Linked DNA regions of Homo sapiens. The protein of the gene in region 1 interacts with the protein of each later gene in a biochemical or structural test. Each region holds a gene or a part of one and is shown in the gene's direction. Other genes may lie near its edges. The genes, in order: DGCR6L and PAK4.

Region 1 (3,629 bases):
GGGACTGGCCACCAGAGAAGAGCTGCAACATCAGGGCTCTTCCCAGGAACAGAGTGTTGGGTTTCACCTTTTCTTTTGGCCAGGGACCCCTCCCTCCTGGGGAGCTGTAGCCATTTGGCACTTACTGGTCACTGGCGCCAGCTGTGGGGTGCTGCATGTTCTGTTTCATGGTGGTTTATGTCCCATGATCGCTTCCTCTGTACATTCCCTTCAGACCAGACAGTTTGCACACATCTGTGTTTGTGCACAGTTTAGCAAGGACCGTGGAGCTTTACTTGATGGCTGAGGGTGAGCCCCTCAGAGCCACACAGGCTTATGGCACCCCAAGCTCATCCCAAACTTGGGCCTCCCAGGTCTGCCCACCCTTCTCCCTCTGGCGCTGTGCGGGGGCTGGGAGCTGCAAATGAGGGAGGGGCTGTCTACCCTGAAGGGCAGCACTGAGGGTGGAGGGCCCGACCACACCCCTGGTAGGCAGAGGCCCCACGCTCAGGGTCAGCGACCCCGCTCCTCCTGCTCCTTTCCCATGCCTTTGCCTGAGGTGGTCTCTGACACTTGAGTAGATGTCTCATGGCCTGTGGCCATGGGGGCCCTGAAGCCCTCAGACTGCAGCCTCCCTCCCGCCTGCCTCCTCCAGCTGCCCTGGGTCTGGGGCTGCAGCTTTGGCCCCACCTGGCCAGTCTTCCCCACCCCACTCTTTCAGTGCCCCGCACCTTCTGGAGTCCCCTGGAGACTTGCCACCAGATAAGGGCCCGGCCCTGGGTGACAGTGGGGTGGGAGGATGGAGGAGGCTGGCATCCTCCCCACTGCAGACACCCCTTTGGCCTGGCTGCTCTGCTGGGCTGGCAAGGCAGGTGCCCATGGGTGAGGGCTGCTGCCGAGTCCCACCGCCTGCTGACGGGCTCTCATCCCTCCCAGTGCTCAGGCAGGCGCTGCGGCAGAAGCACCAGGAAGCCCAGCAGGCCTGCCGGCCCCACAACCTGCCTGTGGTTCAGGCGGCTCAGCAGCGAGAACTAGAGGTACTGGGGGCGCAGGCAGGGTGGCCGGCCCAGCTCTCCTGTGGGCACCACCTGGCTCTGCTGACTGGGCTGAGCTGAAGGGGTGTGGGGGCTCAGGCATGGGTGGCTGTCCTGGGCCTGAGTGGGACACTGGAGGCCTAGTGAGTCCCACCAGGTGGCTCCTCTTTGCGGATACCAAGTGTGCTGGGGCTGGGTGGAGGTTGAGAACCCACCAGTGCTCCCCTGGATAGCAGCTCCTCGTGGGTTTGGGCCTCCACAGAGCAGGTGGCCTCAGGGGGGTACAAAGGCAATGGTAGGGTGTTGGGGCCAGGAAGGGGCCCATCCTTCTCCCAGGGAGCACAGGGACAACCAGAGACTGGCATGTAACCAACAAGCCGTGGGGCAGGGTGTGCCTGTGGAGATGTGTGTGTGGTCCTAAGGCAGTCCCAAGCCAGGGCATTCGTGGAAGCCCCTTGGGGCCCCCTTCAGGGGTTCACATGGCCGAGGAGAGGCCTGGGTGTGGTGAGGATGCACCGGTGGTGTCAGAGCTGCTGCCACTGGGGACGGCAGCAGGAGCATGTGTTTGAGCTGCCCTCACCTCCCCGCCCCCTGATGGCAGAGCTGCCCTCACCTCTCCCCCTCCGCGCCCTGGCCCCATGGCAGGCCGTGGAACACCGGATCCGTGAGGAGCAGCGGGCGATGGACCAGAAGATCATCCTGGAGCTGGACCGGAAGGTGGCTGACCAGCAGAGCACACTGGAGAAGGCGGGGGTGGCTGGCTTCTACGTGACCACCAACCCACAGGTCAGTGCCTGGGCCTGCTCTGCCCTAGCCCGAGTGCCCCGGGGCCCCATTCCATCTGGGGTTTTACTGCTGGTCCCTGGGGAGCCAGGCTCAGGGTATGGGGGTGAAGTGGAAGGATTGAGGCTCTGGAAAGGATTTCTGTGCCATTCCCAGCACGGAGGCCAGGCCCATTCCCTACAGGAGGGTGAGCCAGCCAGCCATGGGCACTGCCCACCCTCTCCAGGCCTGCTGTGCCACACAGGGCCCTCTTCTGCTCCCCTCCCGCATGCCATTCCGAGTGGCCCTGCTGGGGGCAGAGGCTCAGATTCCGAGTGGCCCTGCTGGGGGCAGAGGCTCAGATTCCGAGTGGCCCTGTTGGGGGCAGAAGCTCAGATTCCACCCTGTCCTGGCAGGCCATGACCAGGCTTCACAGGATGGTCGCCCCCGTGGGCTCACTGCCTGGCACCCTTGGGCCGGGATGAAAGGGGCCTGGGGGTCACTCTGGCCTTCATGGGGCCCCTCTGTATCCCAGGAGCTGATGCTGCAGATGAACCTGCTGGAACTCATCCGAAAGCTGCAGCAGAGGGGCTGCCGGGCAGGGAATGCAGCCCTGGGACTGGGAGGTCCCTGGCAGTCGCCTGCTGCCCAGTGTGACCAGAAAGGCAGCCCTGTCCCACCATAGCCACAGGCAGCAGAAGTCTGGGCAGAGTTCATCTTCTTGACCTTTGGCCACTGCCTTCCCAGCTGCCCGCAGGGGGTTCCCCCTGCTGAGGAGAGACCAGGTGGACCCCAGCTGCCTGTCACCCTTCATCTGGGACTTGCTGTCAAACCCTAGGATAGTCTCATAAAGGGGAGGCTGGGCCAGCCTGCTGCTGTCTGCTTCAGGACCAGGCAGAGAGTGAGGCTGGGGGTTCTCACACCTTACTCCACCGGGCACATCCCAACCTGCACTGGGGCCCACCCGAGCGCTTGTTCTGGTCTCAGCCGCTCCCTTGGCAGCTGCAGCCCCCATGCAGAAGAGGCTCCCAGGCCCAAGCTCTGTGTGACCCAGAGAAATAAAGATGCCTCAGTGTGGCCCAAATGTGGCTTGTGTGATAGCTGCAGGTTCTGCCATAACCGGGGCCCTGGTAGGGCCCCCACCTCTGTTGCAGCAGAGGCCTCTACCTGGGGGCCCCTTCCTGGGCTGTGTGCCCAGCCCACCACCCCTCCCCCTGCCTGGAGACTGGGACCCTCCAGCCTTTCCTGCCCCAGCCCTGGTCCCAGGATGCTGTCACTGCCATCTGTACAGGGGCCCCCATCCAAGCCCCAGGGCATGAGGACCACATCCAGCCTGCTTTGTGGGGCTGGGGGCTGGAGAGCATGGGAGAAGGCCCGGAGTGCAAGTATGCGCCTGCCGCAGCCTGGTCAGTGTCCTGTGGGAACCACTAGGAGGAGCCTGATGCAGGTCACTGGGATAGAGGACTCAGGGTGGCAGGAATGGCCTGAGGAGGAGCCCTGCGGGGAGGCATGCCAGGGCCACCTGGGGAGCTTGGCTTCTGCATCTGCATGAGTCCCCTCCGTGCTGGCCTGGGCCCATGGGCCCTGCTGGGTCCTTGTGGAGTCAGGGTTGGGGGTGTCCAGCACCCTGGGTGGCCAGGTCTGCGCAGGGCCTGGCCTCCAGGAACAGATGATGCTGGAAGCCAGAGTTTGGGATGAGACTTCTCTGACCCTGTCTGAGCCACTCCCTCTTTGTTGCCCAGAGCTGACCCTGTGTGAGGGCAAAGGGCTCTCAGCTGCAGGAACAGTGGTTTATTGACCAGGCAGGCCTCCCCAGCCCGGCCACTGCTCCCCGAGGGGCTCGGGCTATGTGGG
Region 2 (3,806 bases), on another chromosome or scaffold:
TAAAGAATTCAAAAGATTTTTTAAAATTTGAAATAAACATTTTAGAGTAGGATACAAAATGCGCTTGCATTTCTGGGATCAAATACTGGACTTCAGAGGCATCTGTGCCCCGGCTGGGGCAGAAGGCTGCACCTTCCTGCTGCTCTGGGACTACTGCCCCCAGGTCCCAGCTGCTTATCTGAAAGATTTCCCGGGTGCTGCTGGGCCTTGTCCAAGGCCTCTGAGCAGGGGAATAATGCAGCGGACAGGGACGATCATTCCACGGAGTCCCTACTGTGTGCTGCCCTGGGCTACGAGGGGGTAAGACAGAGGACAGTCCCTGCCCTGTGAAGCTGACACATTCTAAGGGAGAGGCAGATGCTAAAGAATTACACATATGGCTGGGCCCGGTGGCTCACGCCTGTAATCCCAACACTTTGGGAGGCTGAGGCAGGTGGATCACCTGAGGTGAGGAGTTCAAGACCAGCCTGGCCAACATGGTAAAACCCCATCTCTACTAAGAATACATAAATTAGCCGGGTATGGTGGCGGACGCCTGTAATCCCAGCTTCTTGGGAGGCTGAGGCAGGAGAAGCACATGAACCCACTAGGCGGAGGTTGCAGTGAGCCAAGATCATGCCATTGCACTCCAGCCTGGGCAACAAGAGTGAAACTCTGTCTCAAAAAAAAAAAAAAAAAAAAAGAATTATACACACACACACAAGCACGCCATATATGTGGTAAGAGCCCTGAGGAAAGATAAAGCAGAGACAGGTGTAGAGGGCGACAGGACAGGAGCAGGGCTTGTGAGCACAGGCGGGCCTGGGAAGTCAGGGAAGGTGGGAGATCAGTGAGAGGAGAGTTCCAGGTGGGGCACTCGCCCATGCAAAGGCCCTGAGGTGGAACCATGTCTAGGATTTGAGGAACAGCAGGGGGACCTGTGTGGCCAGGGCACAGTGAGTACAGGGGTGCTTGGGAGAAGAGGAGGGCAGCATGGTGATGGGCGCATCCTGTGGGGACTCTCAGGCCACGAGGAGGCATTTTGGGGGCCAGCAAAGGGTTTAAGGCTGTGAACTCTGGAGTGGGCAGGACTCTGGAATGGGCAGGACTCTGGCTTCCAGGCCCAGCTCTGCTCGGTGAGCTTAGTGAGAGATTTTACCTTTGTGAGTCTCTGTTTCCACAGCTGCAAAATGGGGCTCAGAATGGCCACTCCACCGTGGTTGAGGGCGCCTGCGAGCTCAGCGTCAGCGTCTGCTCTGGGCCATGGGTCCCTTGTGGTGGTGGCGATGGTGGTGGGAGTACCGAGCTGAGCCTCAGGCCACATTTGGTGGGAGGGGTTGGTTTTAAGCATCTTTCCTGCTGCACAGGCCCATGGGAAAGGCTGGTGTACAGCCATTGGGGAGGTGGGGGCCCCGGGGCCCACTTTGTGCTTCCTCCCACTACCCGTGGGGTCCAGGACAGGTCACACAGGAGGGAGGGACCCTCACTCAGCAGAGACTAGGCAGGAGAGGAAAGGCAAGGTCTGGGTGTAGACAGAAAGAATGGGAACGGAGGGAGAGGGGAGGCCAGGACCAGCCTTGAGAGGATGATGATGATGATGATAATAATAATAATAATAATAATAAGGCCGGGCGCGGTGGCTCACGCCTGTAATCCCAGCATTTTGGAAGGCCGAGGCAGGTGGATCATGAGGTCAGGAGATCGAGACCATCCTGCCTAACACAGTGAAACCCCATCTCTACTAAAAATACAAAAAAAAAAAAAAAAAAATTAGCCGGGCATGGTGGTGGGCACCTATAGTCCCAGCTACTGGGGAGGCTGAGGCAGGAGAATGGCGCAAACCCGGGAGGCGGAGGTTGCAGTGAGCTGAGATTGCACCACTGCACTCCAGCCTGGGCGACAGAGCAAGACTCCCTCTCAAAATAAATAAATAAATAAATAAATAAATAAATAAATAAAATAATAATAGACAAAACCAACAGTGTCACCTCAGCCCTCCAGGGCAGCAGGACAGGCAGGTAAGAGCCCAGCCTTCAGTGCCTTCCATACACAACCGCCCAGGTTCAAATCCTGGCTGCTTCTCATGTCTGCCTCTCACTGGCTGCTTCTCCTGTCCATGCCCTGGACAAGGGCCTTCCCTTCTCTGGGCCTCAGTTTTCCCATTCATGAATTGGGATGAGGATGCTTGTGAGGATGGAACGGGATTAGACGCACAGCAGGGCCGGAACCCGCGAATCTCTGCAGACAGGCCTGGAGTCTGGTGTCCACTCTGCCACCCTAGCTGGGCCACCTGGGTTAATGAGGTCCCCCTCTGTGCCTTGTTTTCCCTGTCTGTAATCCGGGGCTTATTAATGGCCCCTCCCTCCAGGATCATATGTGGGACTCCGGGTAAAGTGCCTGGAAGAGGGCTGGTATACAGTAGGTACTCAGTAAGTGCTGGCTGCTATTGGAATGGTGACCGGCACTTACTGAGCACTTACTGTGTGTGTGATTTGCCTTGGTTCTGATCCCAACCACTGTCTCTGGGCCAGGCCCTCCGTGCCCTCTGTTCTGCGTAATTCCTTATAAAAACTCCAGGAAGGCCAGGCGCAGGGCTCACGCCTGTAATCCTAACACTTTGGGAAGCCAAGGCAGATCACTAGAGGTCAGACCAGCCTGGCCAACATGGTGAAACCCCATCTCTACTAAAAATACAAAAATTAGCTGGGCGTGGTGGCAGGCGCCTGTAATCCCAGCTACTTGGGAGGCTGAGGCAGGAGAATTGCTTGAAGCCGGGAGGCGGAGGTTGCAGTGAGCCAAGATCGCACCACTGCACTCCAGCCTGGGCGACAGAGCAAGACTCCGTTTAAAATAAATAAATAAATACTCCACGAAGCAGCTACTATTATCGCCGTCTTTGAACAGAGGAGGAAACTGAGGCACAGCGTGGCTGAGTTGCTCACCCAGGGCCACATATTGAGGTCCCCAGGTTGGGTTAGAGCTCCAGTTCACAGACACAGAAAGTGAGGTCATATAGGGCCAGTCGTGGCAGCCCTGCTGGGGTTTGGAGCCCTAGGCAGCCTGACTGCCAAGCTTGGAGCTGGCCTGGGAGCCCAGCCCCCACCCTTCCCTCCCTGCACCTGGGCAAGCCCAGCCTTTCTGCCTAGCTCTTCTCCCTCTTCCCAGGCCTGGCACGGCCTCTGTGGCCCCCATGAGGTCAGGAGCATCTGTTGGGAAGGGAGCGCCTGCTGGGGAAGCCGGCAGGGCTTGGAGCTGCACAGGACGGCCCAGGGTGGGGTCCCTGCCTGGTCATTATAAACATGTTCAGTTCCTCTGTTTGTCCTGCCCTCTGTGCAGTGCCCAGAGGGAAGGGGTGGCCCCAGGCAAATATCCGGAGGCGTGCCCCTTGCCCCCTTCCCTTGGGGGTTTATGGGTGGGAGGGCAGGAGGCCAGGCGTCGGAGGACATCCCCCAGACCCCATGCTGCCAGCTGGGCCAGCCGCCCGCCCTCCAGGCTGCTCTTGCCCCGTCCCCAGGTGTCCCCCACCTCAGGGTCTGCCCCGCTGTCCGCCCTCCGGGCTTAGTGAGGGGTCACATGGCTGATCCTCTTCCCGTGGCTCTGGGAACTGCCTAGTGCCCCGCAGTGGGGAGGGAGCGGGATGGGGCGGGGCGACAGGTTCACGATGAAGAGGCCTGGGCTGGGCATGGGGCCAAAGGGGGTGGAGGGACATCTGGGAGGACGGAGAGGCCGGAGGACATGGGACGCAGATCTGGAATGACAGCAGGCAGAGTGGGCAAATGGGGACTGTTGGGGTATGTGGATGACCCTGGGAGCTGGGCCTAGAAAGC

What was found.
Region 2: the proteins of DGCR6L (region 1) and PAK4 form a complex in vitro, tested with the Homo sapiens proteins (one study listed by BioGRID).

The regions. Positions count from the first base shown.
Region 1 is NC_000022.11:20,313,506-20,317,134, reverse strand, and holds the end of DGCR6L (protein DGCR6L), read left to right. Parts: intron 1-915; coding exon 916-1,016; intron 1,017-1,658; coding exon 1,659-1,799; intron 1,800-2,310; coding exon 2,311-2,460; 3' UTR 2,461-2,897; downstream 2,898-3,629. UniProt on the Homo sapiens protein: May play a role in neural crest cell migration into the third and fourth pharyngeal pouches.
Region 2 is NC_000019.10:39,163,617-39,167,422, forward strand, and holds part of PAK4 (serine/threonine-protein kinase PAK 4), read left to right. Parts: intron 1-3,690; exon of another isoform or gene 3,691-3,770; intron 3,771-3,806. UniProt on the Homo sapiens protein: Serine/threonine-protein kinase that plays a role in a variety of different signaling pathways including cytoskeleton regulation, cell adhesion turnover, cell migration, growth, proliferation or cell survival.